Regions from separate parts of the Homo sapiens genome. Here all the other regions are reported to be linked to region 2. Evidence: microRNA targets listed by miRTarBase, many of them from high-throughput screens and not tested one by one. Region 2 holds a microRNA gene; each other region holds the end of a gene's coding sequence.
What was found. The annotated mature microRNA hsa-miR-1247-3p reads CCCCGGGAACGUCGAGACUGGAGC and lies in region 2 at 3,083-3,106, shown strand. An mRNA with a match to its seed (bases 2 to 7 or 8) in the 3' UTR can be bound and repressed. Matches are read on the target gene's strand: a 7mer-m8 pairs with bases 2 to 8, a 7mer-A1 pairs with bases 2 to 7 and ends in A, and an 8mer does both.

Region 1: the mRNA of SMC5 is a reported target of hsa-miR-1247-3p. Seed matches in the 3' UTR shown: 7mer-m8 at 2,411-2,417.
Region 3: miRTarBase lists KCTD20 as a target of hsa-miR-1247-3p. Seed matches in the 3' UTR shown: 7mer-A1 at 368-374.
Region 4: the mRNA of MRPS14 is a reported target of hsa-miR-1247-3p. The part of its 3' UTR that is shown has no 7-base or 8-base seed match.
Region 5: the mRNA of ZDBF2 is a reported target of hsa-miR-1247-3p. Seed matches in the 3' UTR shown: 7mer-m8 at 2,615-2,621.
Region 6: miRTarBase lists DENND6B as a target of hsa-miR-1247-3p. Seed matches in the 3' UTR shown: 7mer-A1 at 2,681-2,687 and 7mer-m8 at 2,421-2,427.
Region 7: miRTarBase lists VSTM4 as a target of hsa-miR-1247-3p. Seed matches in the 3' UTR shown: 8mer at 3,720-3,727.

The regions. Positions count from the first base shown.
Region 1 is chr9:70,351,905-70,356,378 of GRCh38, forward strand. It overlaps SMC5 (structural maintenance of chromosomes 5), which reads left to right. Exons shown (of 25, transcript NM_015110.4): 25 at 287-2,969. The coding sequence ends at 427. Among named protein-coding and RNA genes, the nearest start is that of KLF9-DT, 60 kb to the right of the region's middle.
Region 2 is chr14:101,558,958-101,563,431 of GRCh38, reverse strand. It overlaps MIR1247 (microRNA 1247), which reads left to right and starts at 3,010; the gene lies at 3,010-3,145. DIO3 (iodothyronine deiodinase 3) reads right to left here and starts at 1,937. Exons shown (of 1, transcript NM_001362.4): 1 at 1-1,937. The coding sequence starts at 1,935. The coding sequence ends at 1,021. DIO3OS (DIO3 opposite strand upstream RNA) reads left to right here and starts at 3,010. Exons shown (of 2, transcript NR_152588.1): 1 at 3,010-3,180.
Region 3 is chr6:36,486,359-36,490,832 of GRCh38, reverse strand. It overlaps KCTD20 (potassium channel tetramerization domain containing 20), which reads right to left. Exons shown (of 8, transcript NM_173562.5): 8 at 1-3,950. The coding sequence ends at 3,658. Among named protein-coding and RNA genes, the nearest start is that of KCTD20, 46 kb to the right of the region's middle.
Region 4 is chr1:175,010,906-175,015,379 of GRCh38, forward strand. MRPS14 (mitochondrial ribosomal protein S14) reads right to left here. Exons shown (of 3, transcript NM_022100.3): 3 at 2,053-3,946. The coding sequence ends at 3,764. CACYBP (calcyclin binding protein) reads left to right here. Exons shown (of 6, transcript NM_014412.3): 6 at 1-1,122. Among named protein-coding and RNA genes, the nearest start is that of MRPS14, 10 kb to the right of the region's middle. RefSeq lists a silencer at 1,754-1,954.
Region 5 is chr2:206,310,651-206,315,124 of GRCh38, reverse strand. ZDBF2 (zinc finger DBF-type containing 2) reads right to left here. Exons shown (of 5, transcript NM_020923.3): 5 at 698-4,474. The coding sequence ends at 3,532. Among named protein-coding and RNA genes, the nearest start is that of ZDBF2, 38 kb to the right of the region's middle.
Region 6 is chr22:50,308,446-50,312,919 of GRCh38, forward strand. It overlaps DENND6B (DENN domain containing 6B), which reads right to left. Exons shown (of 20, transcript NM_001001794.4): 18 at 4,078-4,180; 19 at 3,898-3,972; 20 at 585-3,816. The coding sequence ends at 3,694. Among named protein-coding and RNA genes, the nearest start is that of PLXNB2, 3.0 kb to the left of the region's middle. RefSeq lists a silencer at 223-272.
Region 7 is chr10:49,015,721-49,020,194 of GRCh38, forward strand. It overlaps VSTM4 (V-set and transmembrane domain containing 4), which reads right to left. Exons shown (of 8, transcript NM_001031746.5): 8 at 1-4,055. The coding sequence ends at 3,930. Among named protein-coding and RNA genes, the nearest start is that of MIR4294, 32 kb to the left of the region's middle.

The sequences.
Region 1 (4,474 bases), not on the chromosome of region 2:
GTCTGTACTAAAAATACAAAAAGTTAGCTGGGCCTGATGGTGCATGCCTGTAATCCCAGCTACTCTGGAGGCTGGCTGAGGCACGAGAATCTCTTGAATCTGGGTGGTGGAGGTTGCACTGAGCTGAGATCGCACCTCTGTACTCCGGCCTGAGCAGCAGAGTGGGAAAAAAAAAGTTTTATTAATATTGCAAATAAAATAATACATTTGACTGTACACATGTAAGGTTGGAAAACTATACTTCTCAGTATATAGCTTATATGACAATTTGTTTTAATACTTACAGCTCCTGCAAAATCTTCCTTATTCTGAAAAGATGACAGTTTTGTTTGTCTACAATGGCCCTCATATGCTGGAACCAAACACATGGAATTTAAAGGCTTTCCAAAGGCGGCGGCGCCGTATTACATTCACTCAACCTTCTTAATAAAAGTAAAGAGAGGGAACTTGGGAATTTTTTTTGTTAAATTCTGTTTATAAGTATGGCTCAACTGAATAAAAGGAGATTCACTAAAACGAAAAGCAGTTATTTTTGGAAACCTGCTTTTAAATACAAATAGGTTGATAATGGAAACTATAATGACCTTTCCAAAATAGCAGCTGGTAGTAAAAGTTAAGTCTTCTTCAGTCTTGGTTGAACTTGAGTTCTTGGCACTCTGACCATGAGTCATTCAGTTCTCATGTTAAAATGTACTTAATATTACAAATCAAAGGTACAGTGGAAGAAGGGTTAATCACAAGAAGTTACTTATATGGTAGCCCTGAGCTTTAATTGCAGAGTAACTTTAATTACTTTTAGAGCCTAAAGATGACTCTAGAGCCTAAGTCCTAGTTTCTCCCAATGTTATATTTAATTTTAAAAAATTGATATGAAAATGTCTAATGTATAGTAATAATTTATGACAGATCTAGTCATTTCTTCCTATTAAAAAAGATTACCTTATCTCCAGTAGGAAATGGAATTTTATGGGCCTTTAAAAGAAAGTTTTATGAAACTTGATGCTATAATTTTATTGGTATTTCAAGGGGAAAAAAGCACTGGGGTTCAAAAATGGTAGCAGAACTGCTTTGAAATGCTGCAAGGTGGCCACTAGATGATGCAAAATACAACCAAAAGATTGACTGAGAATAAAATTAGGTGACAAGGGTTTTTAAAGAATAACCTTTTAAAGTGTGGGGGCAGGGGTTGCTTTTTTTTATTTTATTTAAAGTCAATTATATTTTACATCTTACATTTCTAAAAGCATTTTATAATTATTTTTAGTAAGATTTTTCTTAAAATTTCATATACTGGTTTCTACAATTTATATTTGAAATTTCTCAGTGTTATGTAAAGAGTGATGGAAAAGCATTGATTTCTTTAAAACCGTAATGTTTTTAGAACTTAAGCCTATAGGGCCTTTCTTACAATGTTGATGTACCCATTATCTTAGAAAATCTAGTTTAAACTGTTTTCTTTCACCGCAAAAGAATTAAATGGGAAAATCATTTGTTTATCTCTAAGTTATACTAATTAGTAGAACCAAACAAATTATCTTCTTTTAAAAAATAAATCTTATAGGAAAATAGACAGTCCAAAGTCATGTCTTTGAACAGTGGATTGGATCTGTGCCAGTAATGACAAAATTATTTTTTTGACTTGCTTGCCTGAATAAATTGAAGAATTGCTTTCAGTTTGGGTTTTGTATATTCTTAAGTAGCCATTGAAATTTATATTCTTAACTAGGTCAAAAAATAATGAGCCATAAGTTTATGTCCTCTCACTTAGACATTTTCTCTTTAAAAAGGTATTTTCTTCTTTATAAACATTTTAAAAGAGCCTTCCCTTCTTAAACTAACTCCAGTGCATGAAGTGTGAAAATATTTTAAAATGACATTTTTACTAATATGAGCAAGTCATGTAAACATTGAAGAACTTGGTAACATATTAGTAAATGGATATTACCAAATGTTTTCATCGTTAATTACTTTGCGTTCCACCAAAATATCTTTACTAAAATGTGCTTGGTGTAGTTTGTTTATTGTCTAAATTAGTACCAGTCATCTTATTTCTGCAAAATGAGTATCAATGTGAAAAAGACACGTGAAGATTAAGCATGTTTGAAAATAAAATGGTCAATTACATTTCAATTTACATAGGCCAACAACTGTTCCATACTTTGTTTGTAAACATTTAATTTCTCTACTGGACAAAATTAATATTTGGCTTTACATTGAATTTTGAGCTGTGAAGAATAAATTATGTATCATTTTAGCATATTAAACAGTAGTAAGTCTAGCACATAGTCTCAGCCACTTAAAACAAAAGTTTTTTTGTTTGTTTGTTTGTTTGTTTTTTTGAGATGGAGTCTCACTCTGTTGCCCAGGCTGGAGTGCAGTGGCGTGATCTCGGCTTACTGCAACCTCCGCCTCCCGGGTTCAAGCGATTCTCCTGCCTCAGCCTCCCAAGTAACTGGGACAACAGGCGCGTCCCACCACACCCAGCTAATTTTTTATACTTTTAGTAGAGATGGGGTTTCAGCATATTGGCCAGGCTGGTCTCGAACTCCTGACCTTGTGATCCACCCGCCTCGGCCTCCCAAAGTGCTGGGATTATAGGCGTGAGCCCCTGCACCCGGCCAAAAGTTGATTTTTAATTACATAAAAATCGTAAAAACTTCTAGTAAAAACTTGATTTGGTGAATACAGTTATATTTAAAAACCTTAAGGTGACAAGCATTTTCTATGCCTAAATCTTCATTGGTTTGCCTGGAAAGAGTCTCTGTTAAAAGATTTTCCATATTCAAAGTAAAAGGAAAGATTTCTTGCTTTCTAATTGTCTTTTGGACACATGCCTATTTTCTTTGAGGTATAAACCTTTAGATGTGAAAAATGTAATTTCATTCTGCTATTGTGTGTGCTTGTGTGTGTGTAATTGAAAAAACTGGGAAATCCTGCTTTGTTGGTAATAAATCAATATTTTTATATTCTTTTGGTGTATGTTATTTTAAGTGAGAACTATTTTTTATACTCTGAACCTTATTAAGAGTCATTTTGGTTTTCAGATTTACTAAAAAAAGGTCTGTTAAGTACCCACATTTACAAAATAGTGTTCAGCAGTCTATTAGTGTTCGAAAGGGTAGAAAATTTAGTCCCTTTTCTGCCTGCAGTGAAATCACAGTCTAATAGAAGCAATAAACACTCATGAAAAAAAGGTTTAAACCATTTAAAGAAGCCAAGTTACAAGGCCGAGTATTCATCAGAGAGGCTGCAACATAGGTTAACTGTTTTTATGTTTAAACACTATGTTTGCTAACATGCCCAATAGCCAATTTTCACTTATTACTCCTTACATTAAGCTACTATATAAAGTAATTTTTTTAAAATATATTTTTGAGTCAGGCAGACTTTCACTTACAAGTTACTTGATAGTCTCATCATTGGTGAAATGAGAATCATACCTAATTCACAGAGTTGTTGAGAGGAGCAAATGAGATCGGGGCCTATTGGGACACATAGCATTATAGTGAGTACATTATTAATGTTTATGTATCTTCTCATATTTTAAATCTTGAAAAATGTACTGTGAATTTTATACACCCAGGTCTGAAAATTCTAAATAATGTGAAAGTAGAGATTATTTTGTAGTCTATTGATAAATAGTTCAAAGGATGCCAATACCTACAGACTGAGCATTGGGGAGTGCTGATAGTTATTTTTATAGATCTTGTTACCTTGTTAAATTCAAATATAAGTTAGTCAGATGAGCTTCTTTAAAGATATTCCATCTCATTATTTTATATTGATATATAATTTGGAAATTTTATAATTAATAGAATTTGCACATTTGGGAGATATGACTATGTTGACAATTTGGGCTTTTTATTTCCACCAAAAAGGTTAGGTATGGGGGATTTTATTTATTTTTTAATGTTGAATTATAACTTTATTGCTGCAAAATAAATGACTGGTGATTGGCTGGAAGATTTAGATATTTTCAAAAAAGCCAGCTTTGTATAATCCCAAAGAGAGAGAGCAGGTCTCCTCTGGTTAGCTTCATTCTAAGCTGTGCTAAGAGGACTTGGTGAAGCTGAGGGCAACCTAAAAACAGCTCTGGCCCTGGCCCTGGCCCTGGCCCTGCCTTTATCAGAGAGGCTGCAACGTAGGTTAGTTATTTTTAGGTAGGTCAGAAACACCTGAAAGACGTTCTCCTTCCACAAATAGTACCTTACCTGTCTGACCATGCTTTTGTTAGTAAACTTTAATTTCCTTTTGCCTGAGGAGACTGTTACACGCTCTTGGCATCCAGGGTCATGCGTTTAGAGTGAAGGTTGAGGGGAAAGGGTGCCAAGAGGGTCACTTGACCATTTCTGCCAAATTTAAGGAGTGGGTTAATGAATTCCAGTGCAGGAAAGATTTGGGACAAGCTGCCCAATGAATGTTATGATAGAATGGTAAATTTTACATTCCTTTCATATTATTTAGAATTTATTTT
Region 2 (4,474 bases):
TATTATTGTAGATTGAAAGAAGTTTATATACAGGAAATATTTCCAGCAAAACACTCACCAAATGGCCTTCGAATCAGGGGCCCTCCACCTCCCAGCCCCACAATCAGCAGCTCTGCCTAGGACTCCCCTCACTTGGGGACCTCAGGCTCTCCCCCCACCTCTCTTTCCCCGGACTCCATCACCCCAACGTCATTCCCCAGGAGTCTCAGCTTTTTCTCTCTCCCTGGGGCGCTGCGAACCTCGCCAATGCCTCTCAAGCTATCTTCCTCTGGTCCCAAAGCAGACACCCCAACTTCCCTCCCATTTAAGGTGGTTACCTCACGGAAACCCAGAGCACCCTCCCCCTCAAGGTTTAGGTGCTGCTTTGAGGCCCCTGCAATTCAGAACTAGCTCGTGGTCAAGACCAGTTAGAGATAGTTCGTCATCAGCAGTGGGGCTCCTGTGCACCCAAAACAAGCGGGGGAAACTACCCTGCCCACCCCTCCCCATCCACGACATCACTTCCCCTACCAGGGACAGGAAACAGACACAAAAGCAACAGGGAACCCCCTCTCCGCGCGCGACAGGTGGGTGCCAGGCAACTAGCTCAGCTGAGCTGAGAGTCTCCTGGAACCCAGCTGCGCTCAGGGCGCGCGGGCGTGGCCAAGGTCTCTGTGCAGCTGCGGGAAGCACCGGGCCAAAGCACTTGGCTGAGGGCACGCTGGGGAGGGGGTGTAAGAAAATGCTGTAGAGGCAAAGTCCTGGGGGCACACGGACAAGGGCAAGCCATATCCCGCGCTCAAAAGAGGATTTCCAGTGAGCCAGGCAGGTGTGAATGAGACAGTTACAGAAGCAGAGTCCCAGGGAGGTAGGGGAGATTGTTCATGTGGCTGAGGGTGCAGACTCAGTCTGAAATGGTGGCTCAGCACATCAGTGTCACTGGGGCCTCGCCAAGCGTGACTTGGTTTGAGGCGCTTGCACGTGGGCTTCGAAGGCTCGAAGGCCCAGCCCACCAAGTTCAGTCAATTGTCCGTTGGATGTTTACACCCTCCGGGGCCGAGCGCCGTGCAGTTGCTCATCATAGCGTTCCAACCAAGTGCGCAGCTCAGAGACCTGGTAGCCGTCGGGGCCACGGCCGCCCTGGTACATAATAGTGCCACTCTGGATGACATAGAGACGCTCGAAGTAGGCGCCATAGGCCGAGCTGCTGGAGTTGGCCATGGTGTCGAGGACCAGAGCGCAGCCGGGTGCACCTTGCTGCAGTACCCTCGCTGCGCTGACCCGGTCCTCCAGGCTCCGGTGCTGTGGGATGATGTAGGGAGAGTCCGTGGTGACCCAGCCGTCGGAGGGGTGCGCTTCCTCGATGTAGATGATGAGGAAGTCGACGTCGCGCTGGTACTTAGTGACCAGGCGCTGGAAGGCGCTCATGCGCGCCATGAACGGTGGTCAGGTGCAGCTGCCGAAATTGAGAACCAGCGGGCGGTTCCCTTGCGCGTAGTCGAGGATGTGCTGGCTCTGGAAGCCGTCGGGCAGAACCACCTCGGAGTTGGGCGCCGGACCGCCCTCGTGCGCCTGCTTGAAGAAATCCAACTTCTGGCCATGCCACACCGCCTTGAGCGACGCCAGGGTGCACAGGCGGTTGTCGTCGGACACGCAGATGGGCGGGTCATCGGGAGGCACCTCCTCGCCTTCACTGTTGAGCTCCACTTCGGGCTCGGGCTGCCCCCGGCGGCGGCGGCCCAGGAAATGCTTGCGGATACACAAGAAATCGAGAAGCCAGAGCATGAAGGCCGTGCCGAGGAAGCGCGGGAAGAGCACGAGGCACGAGGCGGTCTGGGCGCAGAGCCTCAAGGAGTGAAGCAGCAGGGAGCGGAGCATGGTGGCTGCAGGCCCCGAAGCCCCCTGGGACCCCTCGCCCTCTCCGACCACCAACCGCGACGTGGCCTGGCGAGGCATCTGGGCTTCAGCAGTGCAGGGAGTTCAATTTATAGCGGAGGCTTCAATTGGCGGGAGACTCCACCTCCGGCCCGGCCCGCCCCCTTGCAACTTGAGCCCGGAGGGATCACCCAGCAGCGCGGCCAATGCCCTAGAAATCTTGGGCTGAGGGCGGGCGCAGGCGGGCGGAGGGCGGAGCGGCCGGGCCTGGGGCCGGTGGGGGCGGGCCCGGGCCCCGCAGCCAGCTCTCGGGGGCGGGGGACTCCGGCAGCCGCTGCCGCTGGGGACCGGGAGCCCGACCAGGGACCTGGGCGTCCGCTGGGGAGGTCCTCCAGCTGGCGCGAGCGCTGCGCGCCGCCCTGGTCCCCGCCGCCTGGCTCCGGCCCGCGCCCCCCTCGCCGCGCACCTGAGCCGAGCTCCCCGGCGGCCGCCGAGCCGCGCCGGAGCTCCGGTTCGCTTCCCGCGCGCCGCCGCCAACGCCGCCCACGCCGCTGCCGCTCGTGCGGGGCCGCTGCCCAGGTGCCGCGGGAGGCCGGGTCCGCGGCCGCCGCTTCGGTGGCCCCGGCTCCCGCCCCACCGAGGACGCGGGCCAGCGAGGAGGCAACTTTGCGTTCCCGCCGCCTTCCTGGCTCGCCCGCGGGCGCCGCTCGCCTGCCGGAGCCCGCCCGCCCGCCTCCCGCGCGCGCTCACACTCGCGCCTCGCACACGGCCGCCCCCCGCACCGCCCCGCCACGCACACCGCGCTCCGCGCCCCCCGCCGCTGCCCGAGGCTGCCGCGCGCCGCCCCAGCCCGCGCCGCCCTGGCCGCGCCCGCCCCGTCCCATCTCGTTCCAGCGGGGCGCCGCGGTTCCTGGGTCAGCGGCCGCCGGGGCCGGGCTGAGAGGTGCGGAGGGCAGAGCCCGCGGGCGGGTTACCGCCGGGCGCCGGAGACCGGAGAGCTGGGGAAAGCGGCGCCGGCCCTGCGCCCCCAGCCGACCCGGGCGCGGGGCGCCACGGGCGTGGGGCGCGGGGCAGCGGGCGCGGGGCGGCGCCGGCCCCGGGCGGCTCTCCCACTAGGGGTAGCTGTTGCCTGAACGCCGGAGCGCTCCCCTCTCGCCGCTTGCCTCGCCCAGCGCAGCCCCGGCCGCTGGGCGCACCCGTCCCGTTCGTCCCCGGACGTTGCTCTCTACCCCGGGAACGTCGAGACTGGAGCGCCCGAACTGAGCCACCTTCGCGGACCCCGAGAGCGGCGGCGCGACTCACCGCGGAGGCGCCCGGACGCGTCAAGTGCGTACTTTCAACCGTAAATGGGTGCTGAGCGTTTAGGGGTGCGGGGCAACTCCCTAACTCGTGGGGCCCTGGCCGGCCCTGCCGCGGCGTCCGAGACCTTCTGATCCCTCGCTGCGCGCGGCGCGGGGTTGGCGACTTGGGCTCAGGGGCGGCGGGGCGGGGAGGTGCCTTGACCTAGGGACCCAGAGGCCGGGAGCAAGTCTCCTTTCGCCTTGGACTGCAGTGTCCCCCAGGGCAAGGCCTGAACCAGGTCGCGAGGGTCTGTCTCCCGTCTGGGGAGCTGAACTGCCCGAGACACTGTCGCAGTCGCGGGGACTTGTCTGGAGCGGCGGGGTCTGAGCCCAAGTCGGAAGCCGCCGCCGCCGCCAGCGTCCCGTGCGCCTGCCGCCCCGGGACCAGCCGCGAAACTTCTTCTCGGGACGGAGACAGCGCTCGCCGCCCGGGCCGAGGTAGGAGCTGGCTGGGCTCGGTAGAGCGCGGGCGAATCGCTTTCGGCAGCGAAGGAACGTGTCGGGAGAAGCCAACTGCAGGACCAGGGCCCCAGCGGGCGCGCAGAGACGCCTGCCTTGGGCGGAGGTCCCCCCCTCCGGTTTTCGTGGCTCTGGTAGGGCCCTCTGTCCCGTGAGCTCCTCACTGGACCTGAGGCTACAGGCTTCAGCAGGTCAAGCGCCCGAGTGTGCCTGGAGGATTGGCGGCGGGGTGGCATGAGAAGGTGGCCCCTCTTCTCCATCTCCCAGTCAGGCGATTTCTCTGCTGTCTGGGGCAGGGGCGCACACCCCAGGAACTTACTACGTAGAGGGAAGCCAGCCTGGTCTCTCCCCCTTGCGTCAGTGCTCCTAAGCTGCCCCTCACCACTCTGGGTAGGGGTCTTTCAGGTGGGCTAGGGAATTCTCCTTGGAAGTCCCCTTGTTTGCTCCCCTCCATCAGGGCACCTCTGAGTTAGCCAATCATCCTCTTTTCTGGCCTCTTTTTTGCGGGGAGGAGAGTAGAGAGAGAAGCCTCCTACTCGGCAGGTCTCTGAGAGGAGGTTTGGGGGGGCTTCTGAGGTTGCTCCTCCTGGGCAGAGTCAAGGGGTGTTGAGGGTTCCAACTTTTACTGGACAATCTCTCAAGCTCTGATTCCCTGATTTCTGGGAGGTGTCAGTGTAGGGCTTGTGTCCTGCCCCACCCACACAGCATTTGGTGCAGGCACATGGGATGGTTCCCCAAGCCCTTTTCCCACAGTTAGTTTCAGAAAATGCATAAGCCACCTAAGGCTGGGAGAGCCTTTCTGTGCTGGCTGAGATCTGGTG
Region 3 (4,474 bases), not on the chromosome of region 2:
GACAGGGTCTTGCCCTGTCATCCAGGCTGGAGTGCAGTAGCGTCATCATGGCTCACTGCAGCCTCATCCTCCTGGGCTCAAGCAATCATCCTGTCTCAGCCTCTTGAGTGGCTGGGACCACAGGTATGCACTACCATGTCCATGCCTGGCTATTTTTTTAATTTTTTACGTTGCCCAGGCCAGTCTGAAACTCCTGACCTCAAGTGATCCTCCCACCTTGGCCTCCCAAAGTGCTGGGATTACCGGCATGAGCCACTGCACCCAGCCAAAACCTTTAATTTTTTTTTTTCTTTTTTGAGATGGAGTCTTGCTCTGTTGCCCAGGCTGGAGTGCAGTGGCATGATCGTGGCTCACTGCAACCTCTACCTCCCGGGTTCAAGCAGTTCTCCTGCCTCAGCCTCCCAAGTAGCTGGGACTACAGGCACTTGCCACCACACCGGGCTAATTTTTTTGTATTTTTAGTAGAGACGGGGTTTCACCATGTTGGCCAGGCTGGTCTCGAACTCCTGACCTTAGGTGATTTGCCGGCCTCGGCCTCCCAAAGTGCTGGGATTACAGGCGTGAGCCACCACGCCTGGCCAAAAACCCTTGCTTTTTAACTTCGATTGACACTTAACAAAAATCCTCCACATCCCACTTTTTGACAGTTTACATTAAAGCCTGTGGTCTGAATATTTGTTTTACTTAGAGGGGGACCCTTTGGGCAACTTATTTGCAAACACATCTAACCTTCCTGGGCTTATTCCACAGTATTTTCATAGACCTGTATATATTAGACATCACACTGTTCTCTTGGGATTTAAAGTAGTACTGGGTACTGCATATTGTGCAGTAAATCTGGCTTGCTTTCTTAACCTTTTTGCTGCCATTCTTTCAAATATTTTTCCAGGGCTTAGGGGAAACCATTAAATGATCTGACTTAACACTGTCGTCTTGCCCTCCCTCCAACTCCTCAGTGGCAAATGTTTCCTCATCAAAACAGCATGATATGATGCAGATGCAAACTCAAGATTCTAAACTTCAGATTCGGGTTAATCTTGGCTTGCCGATTTCTCTGGCTAAAATATCAACAGCCTGGCTTGCTTATTTAGGCACTTAGAAGAAAACACCAAACCCAAGTTTCACATTTTTAAAATTACAAATGCCTCTTACCCATCTGGCCAGGAACCAACTCTGAAGGGGGTGACCTCAACCCAGCCCTTGTTTCTGTGAGGTCCTGCTTTTGCAGAATGGCCTGCCCCTGGGACTGGAGCAGGCTTGGGTGAGCTCTAGGTGGAGGGTGGTGGGAGGGGCATAGAAATAAACCTTCCTCTCCATCAGAAGGAACCTGTGATCCCAGCTTTTCCTTCAGTCACCACCACCTCGTGACACTAGAAAGCCTACCGTCACAGATTTCCAGCTTACTCAAACCCCACAGGTTGGGGTCAAATGCATGTTAACCTAATTTGGGGGAAAAAAGACTCAATCTTGAAAGCCTGAGCAAAGTAAAGGGTTACACAGGACAGTGTCAAGTATATGCCATACTTCATACCTGGCATTTTCCCTAAGCAAGAACTAATTAGTTTTCATTTTTAAGTGTTAGCTGTGGCATGGTTTACACTTAAATGTTAACAATACATAAGCTGTGTAACAGAAGTTATACATAGTTATCATGGAATATACAAACACTAGGTAATTCAAATTTCCTTTGTAATGGCATGGAAGTCTACTGAGAAGCAGAAAAGAAGCACCATTTAACAATTATCTGGGCTAGTCAACTGGTAGTGGGTATAAATGTACTGGTAAGGTCAAGGCCACACCTAACCTCAAATATGAGCCAATTAGTTTCACAGAAATAAAATTACCTTCTAGCTACAAATAATCCTAACCCTTAATCCAGGCCATTGGCCTTGCAAATGGATGCCAATAGTCATCAGGTGGGGGATAGCTCAGTTTAACCACTTACTACATTCTAGTGAAGAACAGAGCATTAATTTCCACAGTGATGCTAGTCACATGCAGAGAACGTAAGAACACTTTTTCAGCCCTGGAAAGAGCTTTCAACATCTACCTGGCTTTTATCTTTGGATGATTATGACTAGGACAGTCATTAAATGGAATCGAGTAGCCTCTCCTACACAGGATGAGCATCCCAAATCCAAAAATCCGAAATTTGAAGTGCTCCAAAATCCACTTTTTTGAGTGCTGACATGACGTTCAGAAGCCTTTCAGATTTGGGGTGCTCAACTGTTAAGTATTCCAAAATCTGAAAAAATCTGAAACCTTTCTGGTCCCTAGCATTTTGGATAAGAGATACTCAACCTGTATTCCAGTCAGCTTCTACCACAAACTGGGAGATAATTCCAAAATACTTATATCTGGCTCTGCACTCTAAATTTAGCTATACTATTAATAGCCATGGAGAACAGGAGGGAAGATGGTTCAGCACTGTGTGGGCTGAGGAGGGTGATCTGGGTGATCATGCACTGATAACAGAGCTAATAGATCAAATAAAATGACTGGGCTTAATTTCCATTCAGCTCACCCTTCCTTTGGGGATGACATTGGTATAATATTCCTACCCAATGTGTGAGCAGCTATTAGGCTATTTCAAGAACCAAAATACACTGATATCCAAAAATCCCATGGTATGAAAACATACAGAGAAAAGTCCTGCACTAGGACAGGGACTGTGCAGATGATGCTTCCCACCCAGCTTCACTCCATGTACCCCATGCTGGCACTCTTATGAGTCTTTCTGTTGAGAAACTGAGCAATTGTAAGCAATTTCTGTCCTCATCTTGAAAGCCTTTAAGCCATATCTAAGGTCTCCTGGACATATCCACAGCAATGTGCTGCTCCAGAGTGTTAAGACCTATGGTTTCACACCAGATTCCAAGCCAGGATAACCCAACTGGCCTGATTTGGAGAGGTCCTTCTACTTGCATTGTGAGTTTCATTCCAAATGAATCATCCATTTGTTTAGACTCCGAAACCTTGAAGCTAAAAAGGTCTCATCAACACTGTTATTCCATTATCCTTCCTGCCAAGGAATCTGTGTGGTTTTGAATTGTTCACTGCATTAATGAGACACAAATCTGAATTTAAGCTCTTAAGAATTTCCTTTTGGACATTCTGAATGAGACCCTAGTTCTTTCCAGATGCAATTTGGGTGCAGAGGCCACCAAGAATGGCATCTTCATTAACCTCTAATGAGCATCCGATTGGTGTCTGCTTTTAGAAGTTAGAGATTGTCACCTTTTCAGTTTGGTCCCTTTGCTACTAAGCAATTTGCCTGGTATAAAACAAGACAAAAACAAAACCCAAGAACAGAGTATAAAGGATAAGGACTGCTTTGCTAAGCACGAGGCAACAGGAGTCTTGACTTCCTTTCCTGCTTTTGCAGTTACACAAAGACTCAATGAACAGCACCAGACCCAAATTTTTCAAGTTACCAGGGCTGCTGCAAAGATGGTAGCTAATTACCAGTGAGTACTTCTTCATCCCCTGCCAGAGGCATGGACTTACTGAAAAGGACATATGTTAATTATGGCAGAAAGGAAAAGGTTAGGGGAGAAGCATGTCTCCTACTCAAGGTGAGACAAATCACGAGGGAGGGCTGGCTGCAGGCATCCCAGGTGAGATGGGCTCCAACAAGGAGTAGACCCACAGCTGGCCCTAATCCTGAAAGTCGTTAGAAGCCATCTGAGAAAGTGGGGCATTTAGCCGGTCAAGTTCATCCACTTGGGGTGGGTGATGCATTAATATCTCCTGGTCCTCCAAGACATCATCTCCAGCAGCTACCAGATTCGTGAGGGATTTGCTTCGAACACACTGGAAATCCACATGGCGACTCTTCCCTTCTTCCTTTTCCCATGACATCTGGATGAAGGGGCGTTGTACATAATTATAGATGACTTCAGACCGGCCGCCAGGCCTTCTCTTAATTTTTTCTTTACAGGTAGGGTAACCTGCAATGGAAAAAGGCCATTCTCATGACTAACAAATTGTGCTCACTCTGGTGTCCATACTTTCTCCTTCCTAACCACATCAGTTTTCTCCCAAAATCACAGCATGGAAAATATGTGCGAAGTGACCAGTCCCTGTCCCATGCTTTCCCAGCCCCAGTCACCTACATGTTCATTTCCTTCCTGGTCAGATTAGTAGGTCTTGTCCCTAGAAGGGACTAATCTGAGAAGTAACAAGAATTCTATCCCTTCTAATGGAAAGAGGAGAGAAGCCTCTTACCAGTTCAGGAACCTGTTGTTGCTGGCAACAATACCATAGAAGAAAAGTCCTGCCAAAGCATGGCTACCCTAGTCCTCTTAATTCTATTGCTTAGAGGGCATACTATATGAGAAACAGTTAAGGAAATGTGGAATGTTTAGCCTAAAGAAAAAACAGAGATGCTGCCTAAAATATGTGAAAGGCTGTCACATGGAAATGGGAAAAATAGTCAAAGTAGCTTCAGAGGCTATTAACTGGAAGGCAGGCA
Region 4 (4,474 bases), not on the chromosome of region 2:
CCATTACTTTATTTTCCTGGAGGTATTAGCCAACACAGTTAGATCAGAGAAAGCAATTGAAGCCAGGCATGAAGGCTGGCGCCCGTAATCCCAGCTACTAAGGCTGGAGGATCACTTCAGCCCAGGAGTTTAAGGCTGCAGTGAGCTATGATGATGCCACTGTACTGCAGCTTGGGTAACAGATTGAGAACCTGTCTCATTAAAAAAAAAAAAAAAAAAAAAGCCGTTAGACACACAGGAAAAATCCAGAAGGGTAAACTAAACTAAAGCTACAATTAATATGGGAATTTGGAAGAAGTGGTAGGATTTAAAATACAGAAACAGTTTATGTATAGGATAGCTATAAGTAAATACTGAAACACATTATGCCTCTGTAATTGGGGTTGACACATGAACAGAATAGCAGACACAATGCATATGAAAGTTACAGAATATGGTAAAAGTGGGGTAAAGATGGGTTTTTAATGATACTAAGATAACTGAAAATAGGCATATAGATATATTCCAAGCCGCCTGACGATCTAATTGTAAAAAGTAAAGCATACAAATACTAGAAGAAAATGGAGGAAAACGACATTATATGTGACTTAAAACCTAGAAGAAATAAATAAAACTATTGATCAATTTTAACTACATAAAAATGTTTATAGGACAAGAAAAACCCCACCATAACCCAAGGCAAACAATGTATTGACAGGATTCCAATAATTAAGAATACTTCATACAAAAAGAAATGTAAATGACCTTTAACATGTAAAGATGCTCACCTTGTTCAGAAGAGAATAAACCAGTGTTTTTACCTTTCACTTGAAAAAGAAGTATAAAAACAACTGTATTGAGTTGAGGCTGTGGAGAAATAAGGACACATATATGGGAATGGAATGCAAAAGTTAAACTTTGGTTAACAAGAATATTTGGGCAGGTGCAGTGGCTCACACCTGTAATCCCAACACCTTGGGAGGCCAAGGTGGGCGGATCACTTGAGGTCAGGAGTTCAAGACCATCTGGCCAACATGGTGAAACCCTGTCTCTACTGAAAATAAAAAAAACTAGCTGGGCATGGTGGCAGATGCCTGTAACTCCAGCTACTCGGGAGACTGAAGGACAAGAATCACTTGAACCTGGGAAGCCGAGGGACGAGAATCACTGGAACCCGGGAGGCAGAGGTTGCAGTGAGCTGAGATTGTGCCACTGCACTCCAGCCTGGGTGACAGAGTAAGACTCTTGTCTCAGAAAGAGTATTTGGTAATAACCATCAGAATGACATATTCATTTATCCTTTGACCCAGAATTTTAACTTCTTTCTGGGCTCTGAAAGGTACATTTAGAAAAATTTGGAATGCTATATGCAAAAGATTAAAAATACTCGTGTCTATTTAACAGGAATGTATTATGGTGCATCCACATGAGGGAGTACTTAAGTCACAAAACAATGAAGAGTTCTATATAACGTAAAATGGTCTCCAGGATAGAGTAAGTGGAAAAGCAAAGTGCAGAACATTTATGGTATACCCACTACATTTGTGTAAGAAAGGGTGAGAAATGTGAATGTATGCACATAGGTGTATTTGCTTATGTTTCAAAAAGAAACGAGTAAACCCAAAGCTAATAAAAATTGTTAGCAGGGGAAGGAAGGAGATGAGGATGGAAGCTATTCTGTGAATTTAACTTTTTCTAGAGTTTTGACTTTAGAACCATCTAAAATTTAACATGACTGAAAAAGTAAAACATGACCCTAAACCTATCAACACATTGTCTTAGTCTATTCCTGCTGCTGTAACAAAATGCCATAGACTAAGAATTTATAAATAATATTTACTTCTTGCACTTCTGGAGGCTGGAGAAGTCTAAGATTTGGCACCAGCAGATTGGTGTTTGGTAAGGGCTTGCTTTCTGCTTCCAGTACGGTGCCTTCTCGCAGTATCAGAAGGGTAAAAGGGACAAACTCTCTCCCTCAAGCCCTCTTAGAAAGGCACTGATCCCATCCATGAGTGTGGAGCCCTCCTGGCCTAATCACCCCTAAGGGCCCCACCTCTTAATAATACCAACGCATTGTGGATTAGATTTTAATGTGAATTTTGGAAGTACACAAAATGTTCAAACTATAGCATGTATATATATCAAGTTGGCAGTATAAACTACTTGCAAGTAACTTTAGAACACAAGTGTTTGCCCATTGGTAGTGAGATGGATTCTAAGTTGAGATATTAGCTAGAACATTCCAGTTGGTAAGTTGTCATACATATTTAAGAAATATGAATCCAAACTAGATTGTGATAATTCCCTCATAACTTCACCTCCACCTGAGTTTCGGACTCTGCTATCCAGCTGCGTACTAGTCTTCATCAGATGACACAGGCATCTCCAACACCGCATGACTGGAACCTGAACTCGCTTATCTTCTGTTTCCCCTAAATTTGTTCTTTTTCCAAATTTTCTATCTTGGAGTTGCCCTCTTGGAATTGCCCTCTACCATCTATCTAGACACTTTTATCAGGAACCCAGAGAACCATCTTTACCTCTTAGATATAATCAGTCTTGTAAGTCTTGCCCAATTTTCTTTCCTAAAACTTTAAAAATCTGTCCTCTCTCCTCTACTAATACCACAATGTTAGTTCAGGCCTTCATCTTCCTCAACAACTAAGACATCCTCCTAACTGGTTGTCTTGCCTGTAGCTTTTTCCTCTCATGGCCATCTGCCACACAGCTGTCACTTACCTGTATTACAAACTGATGATGTCATTCCTGTGCTTAAAACTCTGTAATACCTGGTATGTCAGTCTTAATTCCTTCACATGATTTGTGAGATCCTCCACAATACGGGCCTTGTCTTGTGCTTCATATTTCTGATCTACTGAAGTGACTGTGGTTCTCTGATGCTACAGAGTGCCTTTGCTTCTTTGTGCTTTTGTTCCCTCTGTGTGCAGAAAAAAATCTCACCCCTCACCTCCTGATTTATTAAGTTCTCCAGGAATATTTTCCTGATGTTAAGTAGGTACTTCCATTCAGTATGTATATTTTTATCACTGGGCTGATGATCACACTGTTGAGTTACTGAATGAGAACTTTGTGCTACCCTTACTCATTTCTGTTATGGATTAAATAAACATAAAAATAGGGAATATATACTGTTCCAACAAACTTTTCCTCTTTAGATGGAGACTTTCAAGGACTTAAAGAGGCATAATTTGTTTTAAAGTCCCTTAAGGATGGACAAGAAAACACTTAGTGGTTCTTTTGTTCAGCCATCACAAGAAGAAGTGGAGCATTAGATAATCCAGAACAGCAGCCTTGCTATCCAATCTGTTTATCTAACAATAATAGTTAAGGGGAGCTCTGCAGGTCAGCAAAGCTAGTCCAGGATTACAAACTGCCATACATGAGCTACATGTCAATTAGTTGGATTATGTATAAGATAGCATTTTATGAAATAATGCTCTTAATACAAAAACCCCTATATGTTACTAAAAGATTAAACTTAAAAGGAGGGTATAAAAAACATTCACAGAAAATATTTATTATGCTACTCTTTGTACTATGTATGGGAACAGTATGTTTGTTAAGTCCAAGAGAAAAGATAATTCACTGACATGAAACACCCAAATGTCTTCATTTTAAAAGTAGTTTAGAGATAGCATCAGGTAGGCCAAACAACTGTACTGGGCCCCTGTAGAGATTAGGGTTTGGTCTATTAAAAAAAATCTTTGCTTGCTGGAACTGCAAGCTTGGCTTCCCTGCAAGCTCAATAGGTTCTGGAGCTCATTTACCATGTCGCTCGCTGGATCCCAGAAAGTTGCCCATGGTCAGCTAAGTGACGGAAGACTATACGACTAAGCCTCCAGCGCCGCTTCACACCACGCGGACGGGACGTCATAACACACCGATTTCTGATTCTAACAGGACAGCTATCCCGGGGGAGGGCAGCAATTTCTTCATCAGCCACATCCTAAGGGAAATCACATTATTACACAGATCACATTACATTGTTGCACATGTATTTTGCTCCTTCTCACTTGCAGGTAATTTTCTTTTCTTTTTTTTTTTTTTTTGAGACAGAGTCTCGCTCTGTCACCCAGGCTGTGGGTGTTAGATTGTGCAATGTCACAATCTCAGCTCACTGCAACCTCCGCCTCCTGGGTTCAAGTGATTCTCCTGCCTCAGCCTCCCGAGTAGCTGAGATTACAGGTGTGCACTACCACACTCAGCTAATTTTTTGTATTATTAGTAGAAACGGGGTTTCACCACGTTGCCCAGGCTGGTCTCAAACTCCTGAGCTCTGGCAATCCGCCCATCTCTGCCTCCCAAAGTGCTAGGATTACAGGTGTGAGCCACAGCGCCTGGCCACTGGCAGGTAATGTTCATTGCATGAGTACCATAATTCATTTATCCATCCTACATTTGATGGTCATCTTACGATTTGGGCGAATATAAATAGTGCAGCTACATACTCTTGTTTAACTCATTTGTAAAGTAT
Region 5 (4,474 bases), not on the chromosome of region 2:
GAGACCAGCCTGGCCAACATGGTAAAACCCCGTCTCTACTAAAAATACAAAAATTAGCTGGGTGTGGTGGCGCATGCCTGTAATCCCAGCTACTCAGGAGGCTGAGACAGGAGAATCACTTGAACCTGGAAGGCGGAGGTTGCAGTGAGCTGAGATTGCACCACTGCACTCCAGCCTGGGCGACAAAGAGAGGCTCTGCCTCAAGAAAGGAAAAAAAAAAAAAGATTAGGATGTTGTTTATCCTGGCAATAACATCTAGGCCAACAAACTCTGGAAGTCAGTACTACTGGTGCCAAAGGCACCTACCTCACTGACACACATACACTTTCTCATGTTTTCTTGTATTTTATAATACTTGCTGTGGTAGTGGAGGCTCCCAAGTTCTCCCTCCCCAGTAGGTGTCAAACAGTGATATAGATACAGCCTCATGAACTCAGTCTTGTTCACGGGCCCTTTCAATACAGGTACACAAAGTGAAAAGCTGCTAATCCACCACTCCACCAGACAAATAAATGGTTTAATTTTAATCCTTTGAAATAACTACTGCATCGAATATAATCTGTATATCTTTGGTTAAACTACTTTCTCACTGGCATCAACATTTACATTCTCTCATTTATTATCTCTCAGGCCATTATTCTCTTATTCTTCAAGTATTCCCAGAAAAAGTTTCTAACATGAAGAGAGAACAGACAAATTTCAAGGTTTAATAAATTTTATCTTGATAACATCAAAAACAAGTTTAGCTTTTACACTGCAATATAAAAAATACATTAGTCTTCACATTAGTTTTACATGGAAATATATAATTATTTGAATATTTAAATATAGCTTTTCTTTAACCAAAAAAAAAAAAAAAAAGTGTTACTCACAGCCCTAGTTACATAAATAATTTAAATGCACAAATGCAAAAACACACTTCACACGATATTGTTCACATACTGTAGAACTCAGGACAATTACAATAAAAATCTACGCAAAATACTGAACAAGAACAAGATTAAAATACTCATTATGGTCGTAATTTGACTTTTTACTATTAAAAGAATTTAATGCATTCTTGAACACACAAAAACATCAATTGTTTTATCTATTCTGCAAATTAAGCCAACATTTATTTAGACAAAGGGGCACATCTTGTATACTACCAAATTCTGAAAGTAATTTCCAATTTAATTTAAATTATAAGTTTCAACAATTTCAAGTTTTCAAGCTTGTCTAAAATAATGATTACAAGAACTTAGTAAACAAAACATTTCAAAAACTTTAAACAAAATCATCAGTACTGCACTGTACTTTTATGTCTGGTAATATAAAATTTAAATATAAACCTTCTCCCTGCCCCCAATGAAAATGGTACTTAGAAGGGCTTCCAATGTGAAAATGGTAACATTTTTACAACTTGAAATTTTAATTACTTGAATTACAGGAACTGTTCTCTCTGCATGATGTAATCACGATATGACACATCATAGGTACATAGTACACATTTTCATTTGATCTCTTGCTTTTAAACTTACACTGAAAGACTGTAGAATGTCTATTAATAATATTTAAGGGAACTATGTGTCTATTCCATAGGGAAAAAAGACACCAATACCCACAAATATCTTATATATCAGCTGTTTGTTTACTTCCTAGTCAGTAGGACAAAGCTTTGTTCCTAAATTAAAATTGGAGGATTATTTTGAACTACTGGCCCAGTGATCTTTTAAGAAATGAAAATATATTTGTGTATGAGGAGGCAAGGTTGAAGGAAATGAGATATATGCTGCTTTGCAACTAAAGACAAAAACATTTGTTTTTAAACATAATTACTATTTAAATTTAGAAGTAAAGAAATCACAAAAGAACTCCATCATAGCATACACACAGGTTAAATAATGGCCCCTGAAATAAAACCACATTTAGAAACCAACTGTTACACTATATTTCATTATTTCTAAGGTAACACATTTTAAATTCTGAAATCAAGATATGGTTCAACATTGACCTTAGTTTCAATAAAATATGGCAGTCATACAATATAGTTGTAATTCATGTTTCCTCTTAACATTAATGATAGAAGATCCAGGATCTTGGCTTAACACGAATGAATGACAACTGAATGCATCTGTACCAACTCAACCAGTGTCCCTGAATAAAGGTTCTGGATCTATTCTGAGTATCCCAGACTCAAACTGCATCTCGTTAACATCTTTCATTTGAACTGTTAAAATCTGTTAACAAATAGTTAAAGACAAACTAATGTATAAATACAGGTTTCCACTTGCAAAATGGGCCTCCACAAAGATTACCAGTTTTATTCAATTTTTTGAAATATTAAGTAATTTTCTAATGAGAATTAATGGCCTGCCCAAATATTACCAAGCCAATAATTTCAGTTCAAGTTATTAAAAACTGATATGGTAGGCTGGGCATGGTGGCTCATGACTGTAATCCCAGCACTTTGGGAGGCTGAGGCGGGTGGACCACAAGGTCAGGAGTTTGAGACCAGCCTGGCCAACATAGTGAAACCCCCAACTCTACTAAAAATACAAAAATTAGCCGGGCATGGTGGCGCACGCCTGTAGTCCCAGCTACTCGAGAGGCTTAGGCAGGAGAATTGCTTGAACCCGGGAGGTGGAGGTTGCGGTGAGCTAAGTTCAGGCCACTGCACTCCAGCCTGGGCAAGACAGTGAGACTCTGTCTCAAAAAATAATAATAATAAATAAACATAAAAATAAAAACTGATATGGTAATGCCTAAAATATTTTTAGGGGATAAGGCCACAAAATAACCTGGATTTTCATATTAAGCCACCAACTCTTCATGTAGAAGAGAGTAAAGGTGGTTAAAAAAAAGGGGGGGAATGCCTAAACACATGGGCAAAATTATTTTCCCCTTTAAGATCTAATAAGGCTAACCCAAAAAACCTAGAGACTGTATGTGTGCATGTGTCCAAATGATAAAAGTTAGAGACTTGCAGATCCAATTTAAATGAAGCAGGAGGAGTTTGTGCTATGCATAAAAAAAATCACCAGTTTTTAAAAACTGTATTAAAGATTATGGAATCTCATTTTCTGGAATGCTTTAAAAAGAAAGAAAACTTATATTTTGTTTGTATTCATTTAAGTCAACCCCATTCAAAAGTTGACATAATTCATTATAATTCCTTCTTTTTAATAAGTTTGCTATATTCATTCTCACAATGTTAAATTTGCTGGCATGAGAGAGATAATCATAAAAAATAAGAGGGATATGATTTGAGGAACAAAATTCTATATACGGTGCTAAATTATTTTGTGACATAAATTAAGATGAAGTTCTTCTACAGAAAATGTTGGACAAAGGCTGTTTCTGAATCTTAAAATGAAAGGACTCTAAACACTAATTTTAAATGAATATAAAAATTCTGAAAAATAATATTTATAGCAAAATAGTTCAAGATTAGTTTTCTCACCAAAGCTGGGAAAGCTGTGTGCACAAAGTACCAAATATATTTCAACTGAAGTACTGAATCCTCAACTAGCCTGAACACAAAACCAACTTCTATTTTACCTCATTACCTCTCAGTTTGTTTGCTAGCCGAGTCATCATTCTCTCACGTTGTTGTAAACAAGATGAGCTTCTCAGATCATATGCTCTCACAGGTGTAGAAGGACCTTTCTGTCGGCCATGGTAGCTTTCATCAGTCTTCTTCCTCCTTCTTGCAACGCGGCAAGAAGCCCGCACAGGTCGCTTTGGAGGAGGATTTGCCATAGCGCTTGACAGCTCTTCGGCACCAGCTGGTGGAACTGAAGAGTTCAAAAGCACTTTAGCTGTTCTCTTCGCCTTCTTTAGCCTACTGACAACAGATTTTTTCTTCTTCAGATACCTTCCAAGAAAAGCGCTCCTGGACTGATATCTATGACGTAAAAAGACAGAGTATTTCGAAATATACTTTCTAATGATATCACTTGGTTTGGTCCGAATCCAAATTGACTGTTTCTCTGAAGCTTTTCTGGGTTTTTGCTGGAGAATAATTGGTTTATAAACCTTTTTGGGAAAACCTAGCTTATTACTACTAGTTGTCACCCTCTTTCCATGAATTTTCTTTTTACTTTGACTTTCCAAAAGCTTATTTCTAACTGATTTTGGAGAGATTTTGACAACATCATGATTTAAAAATGTTAGCTGGAAATTTCTTTTCTTTGGAAGCTCACGAGCATGCAGAACCTTTGATTCTTCCAGAAACAGAGAAGAGTCACTGGTTCCCTGATGTGAATTAAATCCATATCTTGCCGGCACTGCCATTAAAGGCGCTGAAGCAGAGCCTTGTCCATCAGCATCATTATCTCCTGCACTGGAGTTTTGGTTGCTCCTATTAAAATGAATTTTAACCCAGTTACGCCTCTCAAACTCTGGTACTATTACACTCAGGGGAGGACTAATTACAATTTGCTTAATCAAGGGCTCATAATAATCAAAGATATTCCGTTTATATTTGCATATA
Region 6 (4,474 bases), not on the chromosome of region 2:
CAGGAGGTGGGCGGGCCGAGACCTCTTTCTGGGGGTTCTGGTTTCTGGGACAGAGCTGGCCCCACTTCTGGCATCCCAGGTCCCAAGTCCTGGCCTCAGTGCTCCTAGTGTCCCCTGGGCTTGAGAAGAGGTGGTGAACCGTCTGCAGGGCCAGACCTTGGAGCACGCCTCCACTGCCCTCCCGGAACTGGATGTGCTGAGCAGGAGACAGAAGCATTCCCCAAGCTCTTGCCCCCACCCTGGGTCACCCCTCCCTGGGGCCCGCCTTCCACCCAGACCTGCCCCGTCCTTGCAGCTGGTCAGCTTCCTCCTGTCCCCAGCCAGGCATCCCCTCCTCCTCTGCTTCCCCCACCCGGGATCCGCCCCGCCACATCCTGACAAACTCCCCCAGCCTGACTTAGTTCTTTCAGTCTCTGCCTTCTCCCACCCTCAAGCAGCCAGGCCTTGTTCCTGTCCAAAATCTTCCCTTGGGCCTTGAACCACAATCCACATCACGGCAACCCTACCCTTCACTGCAGAGGACCCCAAAATTACCAGGTTCTGACAAGGTTGCCAACTTTTTATCAAAAAAGGAAAAGACAAGGTCCAGTCACAAAAGGACATTTTAATACCAAAACTGTGGGAAGGCCACTGTTCTAGACTAAAAGGGAGTCTTTAAATAGCCAGCAGGAAGCTTGAGGGTGAGCAGCTGTCCTTCCTGTCCCTGAGCAGGCCCCCTGTGTGCACCCTCAGCCCCGAGCCCCACTCCAGACCTGCTCCCAGCCCTTCCCACCCTCTAGGTTCTGTGGTCCCTGTCCTTCGGGAGGCCTGTGACCACAGCAGTCCTCACCCTCGCCAACTAAGTTCTGCCCAGCAAGCCCTCTTGCCTGCGGGGGCTGGCACTCTGGCCAGGGGTAGAGCTGTCTGGACCTTCCTGCCTCTTCACTGACTGCCCCTGGCCTGGAGTGCGTGGGGCGGGGAGGGCCATGGCCTAGCCCTGGACAGAGGCTCAGCCAACTCAGAGCGGCCCTGACACTGGGGGGGCCACAAGAGGCATCCGGACAGATGGAGCTGGCAGGTCTCCACGCCCAGCCCCCACCCATCCACCCCAGGCCACATTCCACCCCAGGCCTCTTCTGCACAGGTGGGGACAGGCCCTGAGGAAGAGGGGCTGGGACACTACCCCCCACCTTAGCCTTAGCTTCTGCCCAGGGCAATGCTGGCCACCCAGCCCGGTTCCCCCCTCAAGTTCCCCCTTCACACGCCACTATGTGGCCTCACCAGAGCCCTCCAGGGAAATCTGCTTGTGCATTTCTGGATACACAGTGGCCAGGGTCCCTGGGGGCTCCTCAGAGACCAGCCTGAAGCCCCTCCCCTGCAGCCATGTGGGTCTGCAGCCCTCTGTGCTGTGCGGCAGCCCTCAGAAAGCCAAGTGAGGCGAGACTGTGCTGTGGGGAAGCACATGCTGCCACGGTCCTTGGGGTGCGCTCCCCAAAGTGGGGTCACAGTTGTGAGAGAGGTGGGTTGTCTTCCCAAGCTGCCCCGACACCTTGAAGTGGTGGTCCTCAGGGGGCTGGTCACCAGCATAAGGCTTTTGCAGAGGGCCCTGGTGGAGGGCAGCTGATGGCAGGGCCTGTACTGGCCCCCCAGGCCCCATCTTATGGAGGTCAGCATTCAAGCTGCCCACACAAGAGGTGCCAGCATCTCTGCAGACCCTCTAGAGACCAAGCCCTCAGTGGGGAGGCTGGTCCCCCTGTGCTACAGTCAGGAGGCCCAAGCTGCATTTGGGGCCAGGACCTTTCTCACCCTCGGGTCCCCGGCTTGTCCCTGCCACAGAACAGGTTTGCCACCTCGGCCTCTATGTGTTCTGTTTCATGTGGTCACATCCTTGGACCCTGCACCAGACATCTGGGGCTTAACAGCTCCCCTTGGTCACCCTCCCGGCTGCCTCCGCGTCTTGTCTGTAGAATGGGAACAGGGACAGGCTGTCCTGGGCTGCAGTTGGGCTGGACAAGTTGACATGTACCAAGTTCTGAGAACTACCTGGCGCCCGGACACCTGACCCCGCTGTCCTTGTGGCTCAGTCACATCCTGCACTGAAGTGGCTGGCAGTGCTCGCTCTCCACCACCTGGCTGGAGGTCTGAGAGCACCAATGAGAACACAAACAGTACGTTGCGCTGAATGAAGGCTACATTCCTCGGACTGAATGGGGGCCTCAGAAGAAAAAGAAAAGTCCCGGCCGGGCGCGGTGGCTCATGCCTGTAATCCTAGCACGTTGGGAGGCCGAGGCGGGCGGATTACGAGGTCAGGAGATCGAGACCATCCTGGCTAACATGGTGAAACCCTGTCTCTACTACAAATACAAAAAATTAACCAAGCGCAGTGGTGGGTGCCTGTAGTCCCAGCTACTCGGGAGGCTGAGGCAGGAGAATGGCGTGAACCCGGGAGGCAGAGCTTGCAGTGAGCCGAGATCATGCCACTGCACTCCAGCCTGGGCAACAGAGCGAGACTCCATTTCAAAAAGAAAAAAAAAGAAAAAGTCCCTCCCCCAGCCCTGTGTCCCCTGGCCAGCACCCGCCCGGCCTCACAGGGTACAAAGCCCAGTCTCCATGAGTGGCCCTCCCAGCACCCTGTCGGGCATCTGCATGGCTGGCTCGCTCAGATGAGGAGTCTGAGGGTCTGAGTGGTCAGGGGACCTGCTCCCGGGCACACAGTGCGTGATGCTGAGCAGGGCTTGGCTGTCCGGAGCCCTGACAGTACCGTCACTGTGTGCTGTGCAGGGTCAACACCGTACCTCACCGGCCTCAGTGCCTGCAGGTGTCACGGGGGGAGCATACAACCCAGAGGTGGCTCTTAGGGACGTTCACCCCTTACCAAGGAAAGGGAGACATGCAGGCTCCAGCCAGAGGCAGGGTCAGGCCGAAGTCCAGAGCCCCTTGGGCTGCATGTGGGGGATGGACGGACACACTTGGACAACAGGAGCCCTGTCCACCTCCCAGAAGGGACGCACGGAGCTGGTGCCTGGTGGGGGCTCCAGGACTGGGAGCCAGGAAGGTGCTGTGGCTCTCCGAGAGCCAGGCTGAGCCAGCTCTCCTAGCAGAGGTGCTGGGCTGCACACAGCCCCCTGCCCAACCCCTACCTCCCAACAAACCACAGCCCCAAGCAGGTGGGTGTCCAGAGGAGCACCAGGGGTGGTGAGCAGAGCTCTTCACACTGCAAAGTGGTCTCTCCCTTTCTCAAGTTGATGACTATATGCAAAATAGCCTCCCATCCCCAGACAAGACGGGGGCTGTGTCAGGAGAGGGTCCCTCCTGTCCTGGGCAGCCTGTTGGGCTGAGGGAAGCATCACACACAGCGCAGGGGGGTCGGGGGCCAACAGATGGGCACCGGGAGGGGCAGACGGTAGACGCACCCACATCAGCAAGGGCTCCCAGCCTGTCCCCGCCCCCGTCCCAGCCTAAGGTCTGCAGAGGCCAGGTGGGACCCAGGAGGAGGCAAGGCTCTGCCTGCGAGGAACCCCTATGGTCAAGGCCATGCTGTGGTTCCAAATGTCGCCTTTACTGCTGAGACAATGGTGGTGCAGGAAGGGGAGCCTGCAGTCTGGGCGGGGGGCCAAGGAAGGGGAGCGTGTGCTTGGCCCAGTGCCGCCACCACTGGGGAGTGGGAGGCTCAGGCAGACCTAGGGCCCTGGGACCGTGGCCCTTGGCTTTGTTCTAGGGAGGGCACAAGACAGCCTGCAGGTCTTTGGGCAGGGAGCCGATGACCGTCTCGATGTACAGCTGTGCCCGCTGCAGCGTAGCCTCCTTCACAGGGAGCTGGTGGCCCTGAGCCCGCACCTGGAGGGGCAGCCATGGTCAGGGCAGGCGCAGCTCCGTGCCAGGCTGGTGGCGCTGGGACAAGGCTGGGAGGCATCTTACCAGCTTCTCACGAAGTTTCAGGACCAGGTCCACGACCTCCACCTCGGACTTGTCTTTCATCCAGGTCTCGATGTTCTGCAGGGCAAGACGGGGTCTACTGTCAGCAAGGCCCCTCACTGCCCTGGGCCTGTGCCCACCCCCACCATGTTCTGGCCCTCCCCAACCCCCAGCCTCTCTCACCGCCTCACAGATAGCCTCCAGGTGCAGGGCCTCCAGCTTCAGGGCCATCTCCTTGTGCCGCTGCCGGTACCAGCCATCAAAATGGGGGGACTTGAAAAACCGCCTGTGGGGATTAACAGGCGGGGGGCCATGGGGCTGACCCTGGGGATTGACAGGCGGGGGCCATGGGGCTGACCCTGGGGATTGACAGGCGGGGGGCCATGGGGCTGACCCTGGGGATTGACAGGCGGGGGGCCATGGGGCTGACCCTGGGGATTGACAGGCGGGGGGCCATGGGGCTGACCCTGGGGATTGACAGGCGGGGGGCCATGGGGCTGACCCTGGGGATTGACAGGCGGGGGGCCATGGGGCTGACCCTGGGGATTGACAGGCGGGGGGCCATGGGGATGACCCTGGG
Region 7 (4,474 bases), not on the chromosome of region 2:
CACTGCAGTTTCCTGGATCAGGGATACTGGAAAGATGTCATGTTCCACATGGACACCAGCCTAAGCTTTAGGCTGACACAAAAAGACTCCCTCCAGCATGCAAGTGGCATGGCTCTTTTTTGTTACCACGCTGTTCCCTTCCACTTATTGGTGCCAGTGCCCCTCAGTCCTCCTCTGGTCCTGTTGGTGTCCCTCTCCAAATCTGAGGCCTCCCTTCCTTAGGGAGAGCATCAGTCCTGGAGCCCTCCATCGGGAGCTCTCCATTAAGAAGGGCATCTTCAGAACCCAGGGTGGGGCCCACTCGGGCAGCAGGACACACGGTGCAGCAGGAGCTCAGGGGCTGCAATGCAGCCACTGGGTGTGACCTAATTGGGCACCCTGGGTACTGATATCAGTATTTTGTTTGTTTGTTTGTTTGTTTGTTTTGCTTCCTGTTCTGGGAAGCAACTTTGATGCATACTGTATTCATATTCTTTATGCAACCTGACTGGCTTGACCAAAACCAGGATTTAAACAGCAGAGTAATTAGAGAGTTTATGGAAGAGAAGAGTCTGGGGATGTTAGGGACTTGGGTAGAGTCCTGCCCTTCCAGGACATTCTCCTCCCTGCTGCTTGCTCAGTGTCTGTTGCCTTCCAAGGCTTCTCCACTAGGCAGGAGATGTGGCAACAGATAGATATGTGCCATTCCAGCTTCACTGCCCAAGGCAAAGATGATTTCTTTCTCCCCAGGATTTTGATATTCCAGGGGGCCATGTGCATGCTTAGGACCATTTCTGGCATGAGCTCCATTCTTGGCTCAGCCTAGGTTACAGTCATGCATATCAGAGGCTGTGATGAGCAGGGCCATGAATAATTCCCAAAGCGAGGGGGTCTTTGGGCTCATTGCTGTGTGGGCCAGCCCACATTATCATACACTAAAAATATATTTTCTAAATGCCCCATGTTGTCTTCACTCTCACAAGAGTCAAGAGGTGGGAGGCCTGGCTTTTCCTTATTTTCCCTGTGAGCTAACAGAGTGGCGGTACATTCGTAAAAAGGTGACTCTAAGGAATCCCAGGCCTCTCCTCCACTACAGCTGCTTCAGGGCAGGCCTCGGGGCTTTGGCTTGGCAAGACAGTTTCACCCAGGTGGATGCCCCTTCATACCTCCCGGCTTCCTGTGCTGACTCCATGCCAACCATGCCAAGGCCAAAACTCACCACCAAATCTGAGAGCATCTGCTGTCTGCCTGAAAGAAGCCACTGCACTCTAACCAATGGGTTCATACTTCTTTTAGCTTCATTTAAACATTTAAGCAATGGTCTATTTTGAAAATTACTCATATGTAGTTTCTGCCATTGATGCCTTATAGTGAAAACAAATTGACAAACTTTCCCTAATTTCTATTTCAATGATATGTGATATGTTTCCCCTTATCTTTGGAAATGACAATGCATGATTAGTGGTCCATGGACAAAGAATGAATGAGTGGGCACATTTTTTTAAGCTTACTATGGCAATAATGTCAATATATCCTCTCAAACAAGCACCTGATACAAGTCATCCATTGCTTCCAGTTCTGAGCACAGCTTGGGCATTTGCTTCTGGAGATAACAGTGGGACCAGCTCTGCCTGGATGCTGTCCATAGCTTCCAAGATTCCCCTGGGCAGCATTTTCAGTAGGAGGAGATAATCTGCAGGTTCCCATTCACACACCTTAGTGTGGATTCATGCAGTGATGACCACAGTTTGGGAGAAAGAGGCTGGATTCAATCTATAATATAACAATGACTGGTTTGACTCTAACTGGGAGCTACTAGCTCTTAAGAGCATGTGTTCTTGGTAGAATGTGTTCCTGTCCATGCATAATAACCCTAAGCTCTCTTTGGATTTAAGTGGGTGGGTTTGGGGGTGAATGAAGTTCATTTCCGTTCTGTAGAGGCCTAAGGGGCCTGGGAAGATATTACCCCCTGGCCTGTTGCCCTCTTCCCGCCATTTCCTTTTCATGTGCCCCCTCTCCTTCCCATTTGGCACCCCCAGAGCCCCACAAACCCATAAGGCTCTTTGGGCAAATTAGGAGATCATCCTCTGCCCTCAAAACACTATACATCTGTCAGAACACTGCCATGATAAAATTAAAAATCCCTGTGATAATTATTATATAAATGGTGTGCTAACCATATATCCTCCCCTCCCAAAGAGATGCTCAAAGAAGTTCTAGTGAGTTCTTCCAAATGGTTCTTTCTTCCTCAAAAGCTGCATGGTTTATTCAGTGCCTTCGAGATCTGGCAGAGAGGGAGGAATGAGACACAGGTGTTATCCAGAGAGGGTGAACTTCCACTTTGTAAAGGCAGACCAGTTTGCTCCCAGAAAATCAATATCTGCTTCCAATTTGGACCCTTTCCAATAAACCATAAACTCTCATGAGTCTTTGGGAACATTACTGTAGGGCTAAGTTGGTGGACAAATATTTGGTTTTTAAAGTTATTGCAATGAAAGCCTTAAATAGTGAAGAAATTTTCATTTTGAAAATGCAGACTGGCTTTAGCATGAATGTCAACACAGAGCATTTGTGTAGCAATTTACAGTTTCTAGAACTGGCAAGATTCATTATCCCATTTTACCCTCAAGAATTCTATGGGAAGTTAAGTCGTCTTTACACAAACATGGAGTCTGAGGTCATTAGGGGATAAGAAATTTAGCCAAGTTCACACAGCTATATAGAGGGCACAACTCATACCCCAGCTGTGTTTAAAATAGATAATTTATCATATATACATGGTCCACTACATAGTCAAACAATTTCTATAGTGGGCAGTAAATAGCCACCCAGACTATACTCACATCAAGAAATGTCCTCAATAACACAGTTGACAGGATGGTGCTTTCAGAATGGATCCCCTGCCAGTAAGTCCAAGATTCCTGTGTCCCAAAGGTCCACAGAGCAACTTCCCCATGCACCCTGACCCCCATTCAAACCCATTAGAATTCACACACAAGGTTGCAATGGGCAAGGCACTTGGCAAGAGGAGGGTCTTCAGAACACACTTTCCAGCTTGGCGTGTACTTCCCACTCTCCTACCCTGAGGGCACCTGGCAGCAGACACCTTCAGGGGCTGAATCAGAGGTGACTGAGCTTGGCACACAGTGAAGAGGCCCATGCGCTCCAGTGTGTCTTCTGATGGCCAACACCTGTGCTCCTTTGGAAAAGGGTGAGTAAGCACTTCTTAGAGAGTGTGTTTCTCTATCAGTACAGGTCCACCTTGTGAAAGGGCTGGAAGCCCTCTAGAATGGTGTTCTTCTTGTCCTGCGGCCTCAGGGTCTCATAGGTGGGCACCATGGCATTCAGAGACAGACCTTATACTTCTCTAGTCAGTCTGCCCCTCTGGCCTTAATCTTCAGGGTTAGTGCATCTATTTAAAACAAGAGATGCCATCTCAGGTGGTGCTGGCAATCAGCAGTTGGCTGTGGCCCTGGCAATGCCATCTGATCCTTGGAAAACCAACATATGTGCCATCTTACAGTTGGGTCCATAATGGCATTTCCTCTAGCTATATACTGTGAGCTTGTATCGTGGATACAGGAAGAGTAGAGAGTAAAATTAAGATTTAAAAACGATTTTAAAGAAAACCTGGGGAAAGAGGAGAAAAATGTGAAGGGGTTTGGCTCAGCAGAAAATCTCCTTGGCTGCTCTCAGGATCAGAATCCTTACGCTCAGGGCTCAAACCCAGGCGCATCTTGTCCCGGGAGATCTGTCAAGAGCTGTGGCCCCGATTCTTTTGGGGAGAGCAGGCTTGTACCTCTTCAAAGGCACCCAGAATGCTGCTGAAAAGGGGCTCCCCACCACTCAGAAGGCATGAGTGAAAATACAGACATAAGGGCTTTGTCTCCAAGGCTTCATAAATCACTGGGTGGCAGGTATTAAATAGAACCTTGGAGGTGGACGCTGTACTACAGCTTGTTCTCCTCGAAGAGGATCTGGGCGTAGACAGTGCTGGTGGGGGCGCCTTTGGCAGCCCGGTGGGGTTTGATCAGCTCCAGTTCGGCATAGGTTAAGTTTTCCTCAGCAATCTTTGGCTATAAAAGAAAAAACAAAACAAAACACAATTCTAGCTGACCACAGGAGCTCTACATCACACATTCATTCATCAAGTATGCATGTTCATAGCATTTTGGGATTCAGCGAGGGATAAGTGGACAAGAAATTTAAGAGGCTACATAATATCCAATAACATAATTAATAAGATAGATCTCATTGTCTTCTATAGAGCACTACGTCCTGCAGTGAGATCCTGTGATTTGCTTTCAAGTTGACATGAAACACTCACAAAAAAATGACTAAACACAAGGCTAAAATGAAACTTTAATGCTGAAGAGTAAAAATAATGTAACTAATGGTCTCTGATCAAAAGGGAAATATAAAAGTGGAGATGGAAACAAAAAAATTCTAAAAATTAATAACAACACTAGAACGCCACCACTTAGAAATTTTTGTA